Homo sapiens: one gene and its partner. The protein of the gene in region 1 purifies or fractionates together with the protein of each later gene. This does not show direct contact. Each region holds a gene or a part of one and is shown in the gene's direction. Other genes may lie near its edges. The genes, in order: KTI12 and MINDY3.

Evidence for each region.
Region 2: the proteins of KTI12 (region 1) and MINDY3 purify together in Homo sapiens (affinity purification with western blotting, with the first as the bait; one study listed by BioGRID). This does not show direct contact.

The regions. Positions count from the first base shown.
Region 1 is NC_000001.11:52,031,493-52,035,308, reverse strand, and holds KTI12 (protein KTI12 homolog), read left to right. Parts: upstream 1-1,498; 5' UTR 1,499-1,547; coding exon 1,548-2,612; 3' UTR 2,613-3,206; downstream 3,207-3,816.
Region 2 is NC_000010.11:15,836,240-15,840,062, reverse strand, and holds part of MINDY3 (ubiquitin carboxyl-terminal hydrolase MINDY-3), read left to right. Parts: intron 1-1,783; coding exon 1,784-1,835; intron 1,836-2,429; exon of another isoform or gene 2,430-2,501; coding exon of another isoform or gene 2,502-2,521; intron 2,522-2,744; coding exon 2,745-2,859; intron 2,860-3,823. UniProt on the Homo sapiens protein: Hydrolase that can remove 'Lys-48'-linked conjugated ubiquitin from proteins.

The DNA.
Region 1 (3,816 bases):
GTTACAACACTAGTAAGTGGAGGAGCCAAGACTTGAATGTTTTTTACTATACTGTACAAGAGAGATACAAAGACCCCAGTATATGTGCATCTACAATATACACACATGCACAGGCACACTCACATTTCTGCACCTACCATCCTATAGTGCTTGCTGTTTATACAAGAGATCCAACAGTTTCATGGCTCTGGGTCTCAAACCTACAATAATAGAGTTGCCAGATTGAGCAAATAAAAATAACGGATGGCCAGGCACAGTGGCTCATGCCTTTAACCCCAGCACTTTGGGAAGCCAAGGCCAGTGGATCACCTGGGGTCAGGAGTTTGAGACCAGCCTGGCCAACATAGTGAAACCCCGTCTCTACTAAAAATACAAAAATTAGCCAGATATGGTGGCGCACACCCATAGTCCCAGCTACTTGGGAGGCTGAGACAGGAGAATCGCTTGAACTCAGGAGGTGGAGGTTGCAGGGAGCTGAGATCATACCACTGTGGTCCAGGCTGGGTGACAGAGCGAGGCTCCATCTCAAAAAATAATAATAATAAAATAAAATAAAGGATGCAGGCCAGGCACCTTGGCTCACACACCTGTATTCCCAGTACTTTGGGAGGCAGAGGTGGCACAATTACTTGAGCCCAGGAGTTTGAGACCAGCCTTAGCAACATACAACCTCATCTCTAAAAAAGAAAAAATAAATAATAATAATAAATTAAAGATGCCCAGTTAAATTTGAAGTTTAGATAAGCACCAAATAATTTTAAATATGTCTATGCAATATTTGGGACACACTTAAGCTTAAAAATGTTTTTGGTGTTTATCTGAAATTCAAATGTAACTGGGCATCCTGTATTTTATCTGGCAACCCTACTAAGGAGAAAAATTCCTATTTGTCTTTCAAGTTCTAAGTCAAATGACTATTTCTACATAAAGTCTTCAGTGATTTCTCTGGGTAGTTTGTTTTTCCCTTCTGTTCTTTTATAACCTCACCTGCATCTATCCATTATAGTATTTATTACTCTGATTGTAGGCGCCTGATCCTTCCCATTCAGACCTTTTATCTTTTGTGGGGAAAGCGTTTTATGTTCATCTCTGAATTCCCAACCTTGGAGATGTTGAATGATTGAAATGGTAATTGAATAAACATTTACTGAGAGCCAGTAGGTTTAAGAGGAGGAATGAAGGAGAACCAGCATTTATTAATTGCCTTCTATATGCTAAATATAGTGCTGATTGCTTACAATATTTAATGCCCCTTAGGCCTTATTAATAAAATGGACGGGCAGTCTTTCGCTGCAGGAAGATCACATTCTCCTGAGGCCTATAACATTTGGCATAAATAACTGATGCCATTATAGTCTCTGTATCTCCTTTCTGAGAAAGCTGAACCTGGGCCTAGCTGGCGTAGAACTCCTGTTTCCATAGAAACAAGAGGGTCTGTAAAAGTCAAGGGAGACAGGAAGAGCAGTTTGCACTTCCGGCTTACGTCGGAGACGCGTACAACCCGGAAGTTGGCGCAGCGCGGTTGCCAATGGTCGCTCCCTGAGAGGATGCCGCTCGTGGTGTTTTGCGGGCTGCCGTACAGCGGCAAGAGCCGGCGTGCTGAAGAGTTGCGCGTGGCGCTGGCTGCCGAGGGCCGCGCGGTGTACGTGGTGGACGACGCAGCTGTCCTGGGCGCAGAGGACCCAGCGGTGTACGGCGATTCTGCCCGTGAGAAGGCATTGCGTGGAGCTCTGCGAGCCTCCGTGGAACGGCGCCTGAGTCGCCACGACGTGGTCATCCTGGACTCGCTTAACTACATCAAAGGTTTCCGTTACGAGCTCTACTGCCTGGCACGGGCGGCGCGCACCCCGCTCTGCCTGGTCTACTGCGTACGGCCCGGCGGCCCGATCGCGGGACCTCAGGTGGCGGGCGCGAACGAGAACCCTGGCCGGAACGTCAGTGTGAGTTGGCGGCCACGCGCTGAGGAGGACGGGAGAGCCCAGGCGGCGGGCAGCAGCGTCCTCAGGGAACTGCATACTGCGGACTCTGTAGTAAATGGAAGTGCCCAGGCCGACGTACCCAAGGAACTGGAGCGAGAAGAATCCGGGGCTGCGGAGTCTCCAGCTCTTGTGACTCCGGATTCAGAGAAATCTGCAAAGCATGGGTCCGGTGCCTTTTACTCTCCCGAACTCCTGGAGGCCCTAACGCTGCGCTTTGAGGCTCCCGATTCTCGGAATCGCTGGGACCGGCCTTTATTCACTTTGGTGGGCCTAGAGGAGCCGTTGCCCCTGGCGGGGATCCGCTCTGCCCTGTTTGAGAACCGGGCCCCACCACCCCATCAGTCTACGCAGTCCCAGCCCCTCGCCTCCGGCAGCTTTCTGCACCAGTTGGACCAGGTCACGAGTCAAGTACTGGCCGGATTGATGGAAGCGCAGAAGAGCGCTGTCCCCGGGGACTTGCTCACGCTTCCTGGTACCACAGAGCACTTGCGGTTTACCCGGCCCTTGACCATGGCAGAACTGAGTCGCCTTCGTCGCCAGTTTATTTCGTACACTAAAATGCATCCCAACAATGAGAACTTGCCGCAACTGGCCAACATGTTTCTTCAGTATTTGAGCCAGAGCCTGCACTGACCAGAGGAGGTAGGGGGGAAGCCATGGCTTCTGATCTCCACTCCACTTTATTTCTCTGGGAAAAATAGGCTGCAGGTCTCCAGAGCATATCGATGCAGTACTGTACTAGAGCTGTTGTGACTGATTCACTCAAACTTTCCTGCATACCCCTGTGCCAGGCCTTGGGTTTACAGCATAAGTTCAGACTAAAGAGAATGGAGAACTATTGTGGTGCAACCTGGCAAATCCCTCAGAGGACAGAGCTAAGGTGGACAGGGATTACCTAGATTGGATCCTACTTGGGCTATCACAGAGCATTGACCATTGGCTTCCCTCATCTGAGGCGTGGGAGAGCAGACTGGATAGATGAGAATTGTTTTAAAACAATTGTGAACAGAAACTGAAGATGGTACAGTTCTACATCTGCACCTGCCCTTTTTTCATACCACAAAAGTATTTTTTGAGTACTGTACTGACTTTTTGCTAGTTTCTATTCTGGGACCGAGTTCACAGATAAATCCATTGGTTTGTATCCTTGAGAAACTTTGTTTTTGTGGAAGTAAGAAAGTTATCTACTAGATTATTTCCTCTAATAAAATCTTTTAAAATAGTCTACTGGAATCTCTTTCACTTAATGTTCCCTGTGTAACTTCATGTAACATTTTAGGTATACTTGTCATTGTTCTGCCTTTAAGTGAAGTAGTATTTTGATAGTTCTGAGAGAGTAGATGTTTTGAGCTACTCTACAGTAATTATATTATGACAATTTCCGTAACTGTTTTGCTTCATTCTGCATTTCAAGGCAAATATCATTGTAAGCTTGTCTTTCATTCTTCATTGATTTCATTGAACAAATGGTAGGTACCTACTTTAACAGTGGCTGTGATTTTCAAAGACCAATTAGATACAGTGTTTTTGCTCTTGAGATATGTGGTGAGAAGCCGGGTGTGGTGGCTCATACTTGTAATCCCAGCACTTTGGGAGTCCAAAATCGAGGTCAGGAGTTCGAGACCAGCCTGGCCAACGTGGCAAAACCTCGTCTCTATTAACAGTACAAAAATTAGTTGGGCGTGATGGTGTGCCTGTAATCCCAGCTACTCTGGAGGCTGAGGCACGAGAATCGCTTGAACCTGGGAGGTGGAGGTTGCAGTGAGCTGAGATCGCACCACTGCACTCCAGCCTGGGCAGCAGTGAAACTGGGTCTTGAAAAACAAACAAAAAGAGA
Region 2 (3,823 bases), on another chromosome or scaffold:
TTTTTATATAACATTTTCCATTAGTATCTTAACAGTATACTGAGTGCATACTATGAAATATGCTATGCAGTTCTGTGGTGATACGTCACGTTGCTATAGGTTAAAGGGCCTTATAATGCATTCCCTTTGGTACTTCAGTAACTAATTTAGATGGGCATATTATATTGAATTACCCTCCAGAAAACATTTTAGTAATTTTTCCAGTTTACTTTGTATCTCATTTTAAAAGTTGCCATGAAGTAAACCATATTTTAAATTTTTTAAATAATGTATACATTTGAAATACTTTGTTAACTGAAAATTTGAGAATTTACCTTAGTGACAAATGAACTGTATTTATATTACAATTTTTATTCCGTGTAACAATCTATTTTACCTGTTCTTTCCTTTATTCCCAGCTTTGTTCTTTTTCTTGTGTTTTATATTTTTTCACCATCCCTGCCTGCTAAGCTTTTTATTTTGCTTGCCTCTTTTCTCTAAATTATTATCTTTATGTCTACTCTTGTAGTATACCCAGTAAAACTATTTAGATAATCTAATGTTGCAGAACAAGCAGTATAATTTGGAAAAGATTAGGTAGAATTTTCATTTTCTGAAAGTTTTAATGTAAAGTGTTTTCCCCTCTTGTTAATATTACTTTCTCTACAAACATTAATTTCATTGGCTTATGTGGTGTGTATAGTTTTGGCTTGTTGGTAATGCACAGTTGTTCGCAGTAGTGAATACTCAGGTTCAATTTCAGTTTGTTTCCCACATAAACCAAGAAATAACTTAATACATTTGGACTGCTAAAGATTTTAAAACGAAATATGAAACACTCACAACTAGGCTTTGGAAAGCTAGCATAATGTGACATTTTAAATTGTAAATAAAAATCTAAAATTTTGACTTCATAATGAATCAATTTTCTTAACTCACCAGTGAGAATTTATATTTGATAGTAGTAAGATTTGCTTTATGAAATATATGTGAAGTTATTCATTGTGATAAATAACTCCCTGGAGCCAAGACTATCTGTGCTCAAGTCTCATCTCTGCTGTTTAATCCTATGTACTCTTGAGAGGATTTTTCTGTGTGCCTCAGGTTCCTCTTCTGTAAAATGGAGCTAAGAGGGTTTATATGAGGATTAAATGAGGTAAGACATGTAGGGCATTTAGAAAAGGGCCTGGCACTTAGTAAAGTGCTCAATAAACATTACCTCTGATTAAAATGCTTTCTTCTATTTCCTTTGATTAATAAACATAATCTAAATAAGTTACTGAAAACTTTTTAACAGTTATACAAATAAATGAGGAAACAAACTTAAAGCTGTCATTGAACCTGTGTAGTTTGAAAGTGTTATGCCTTTTTATACATGTTTGTTTAATAATTAAGCCTTAAACCTAAAGATTTTATATTATAAAAAGGAAGGTTAGCTCTGATGATATTACTTGGATTTATATAATCTGAAAGATTATTTAAAAGTGCAGGACACATTATGATATGTGAGGCACTGATTATCAGTAATTTTTCATACTTTATAACTGCCGTAGCATAGCTGAACTGAAATGTTATTTAATCACCCTTCTATATTCTCAGTATTATATCGATTTTAGTTATATTCATAATAAAGATGTTGAAATATAAATTCATGTTATAATGAAGTTGAAAATAAACTGAGAATTTTAAGGGAGTAAGGAAATAGGGAAAGTTTTGATTGCTTGAAAGTATTTACAGCCTGCTGTGTGTATCTTGTGTCATTTATTTGCCATGTGTAGTGCTGAAAAGTGTCTTTTATGTATAGCTGCCTTGGCTGTCGAAGAGCTTGGCTTTGAGCGATTTCATGCATTAATTCAGTAAGTAACATTGGAACATTTAAAATACTTACTCTGTGGACACATTGCCACTTTAAGTCTGTTCATACTGTGGAAAGGTTCTTAGTTTTACATAGAAATGCGCTACTTAAACATAAATTTTAAATCCATTGCTTCAGGATTAATTTGCCTTTAAATTAAAATAGTTTGTAAATGTATAAACTATGCTGAGTCCTTAATTAACTACCCAGATACGCTTTTCAAAAACATTAAAAAGCTTTTTCATCATTACAATGAAAAAAAATCATTTTAGCTTAATGTTTCTGTGACCTAAACAAATATGAAGATTTCTAGTAGGATAAATATTAGAATTATTTATTTGCCAGTATCTGTTTTCTATACCTTTTATTAAGAATACCGATATTTTTGTTAGAGCATTTAAACTTTTTATTACAAAGTAAAAGGTAAAGATGGCTGTTGATAGAATTATGGGTGGCATTTGGTTTAAAATGTAACATTAATTTCTTTTAAAAGAAGCCGCAAATGTGTAAGTTATCTTTGGCATTAAGATATTTGTTAAGTAATTTCTAGGATTTAAAAAGTGAAGTTTTCTTTGTGTTTACCCCCTCTTACAAGAAGGCCACTCTATTCTTTAAATAACTGTATATTATTGAAGAATTTACTGATGCCAGACAGTTCACCTAAGAGATGAAGAGGTTCCCTGCCAAGTAGGTGTTCTTTCTTAATGATAAATATCATATATAGTGATAGTTGTCAGAAATAGCTTTTGGTTTTAGTGGCTAAATTTGTAATGAAAAATTTAGAAACGTCCCAAAACTTTCCTGTTTGTATGTATATGTTTTAATGTATAAGAAAATTTAAAAATTTTCCCTTTTATGAATGTAGTTAATCTCATCATGATACCAATACTTAATTCTTTTTTTCCCCCAGAAAAAGATCGTTCAGAAGTTTACCAGAATTAAAAGATGCTGTCTTGGACCAGTATTCAATGTGGGGAAATAAATTTGGAGTATTGCTTTTTCTGTATTCTGTATTACTGACAAAGGTGTGTTCAAGAAGATGATTTTTCTGCCTTTGATTAATGTTGTTCAGTGCTGTTTTTCCTGCAGTGATGAGTAATTTTATTCCTGATGGTGTTTTTAAATTCTTAGAATAAAAATCTTTTACGTTGAAAATGAGTTAATTTCTGTTTCCTCAGCACTCACTCGTTGCTTAAGCAGTTTCACCTCTGCTCTTTTGGACTACAGAGATTATCAATAATGTTCTGGTTGTGAAATGCTGTCCTTTCTTCCAAATTGTGTTTCCTTTGATCCTTCCGTGTAGCACTTGACCCCTTAACCCCTTCTGGAAGCTGTTTTTGACCTTGATTCCATTTCTTGATTTTTTTTTTGAAAAATCACTGTGTGAGTTTTCTTTCTATAATGTCTCACGATTCTTATTTTGTTTTGTTTTCTTTGATAGCTTTGTTTCCTTCTTTATCTGTTACCTCCTGCTCTTTTCTCTCCTCCTCTAAATTTTTATAGTCCAGAAATTTTCTTCCCTGGATCCAGTATGCCTTTTATGGATATTTCATTTGCTCAGGTTACCTTTATATAGCTATTTAATAGTTCCAATATGTCCCCTTCTAGTCCTACTCTTTTTCCCCAAATACCAGTCTCATAGCTCTAGTAACGTGTTAGTCTCAGTTGACTATGCTATTAGATCTATCATGTCTGAAATCAAACTTCTTTTATTTGACAAATGTTTTTTGAGCGTTGATTGACTCTATGCTAGGGACTATGTCTGTATTAATAATATGGGATGCATTTTTAATGGTATCTATTTAGCATTGTAAAAAAATGGCACATTAATAATTCCATTATGGCAGTGTGTTTTGGCGTTTGGTCTTCTGTCTGAACCTATTAGATGGAATCAAGGGCATACTGTTTCTAGTAGGGACCATCTGACAGAGATAGGACCTTGATGCATGAGGGCAAGTTTTCTATATGGGAAAGCTGGAGGACATTTTT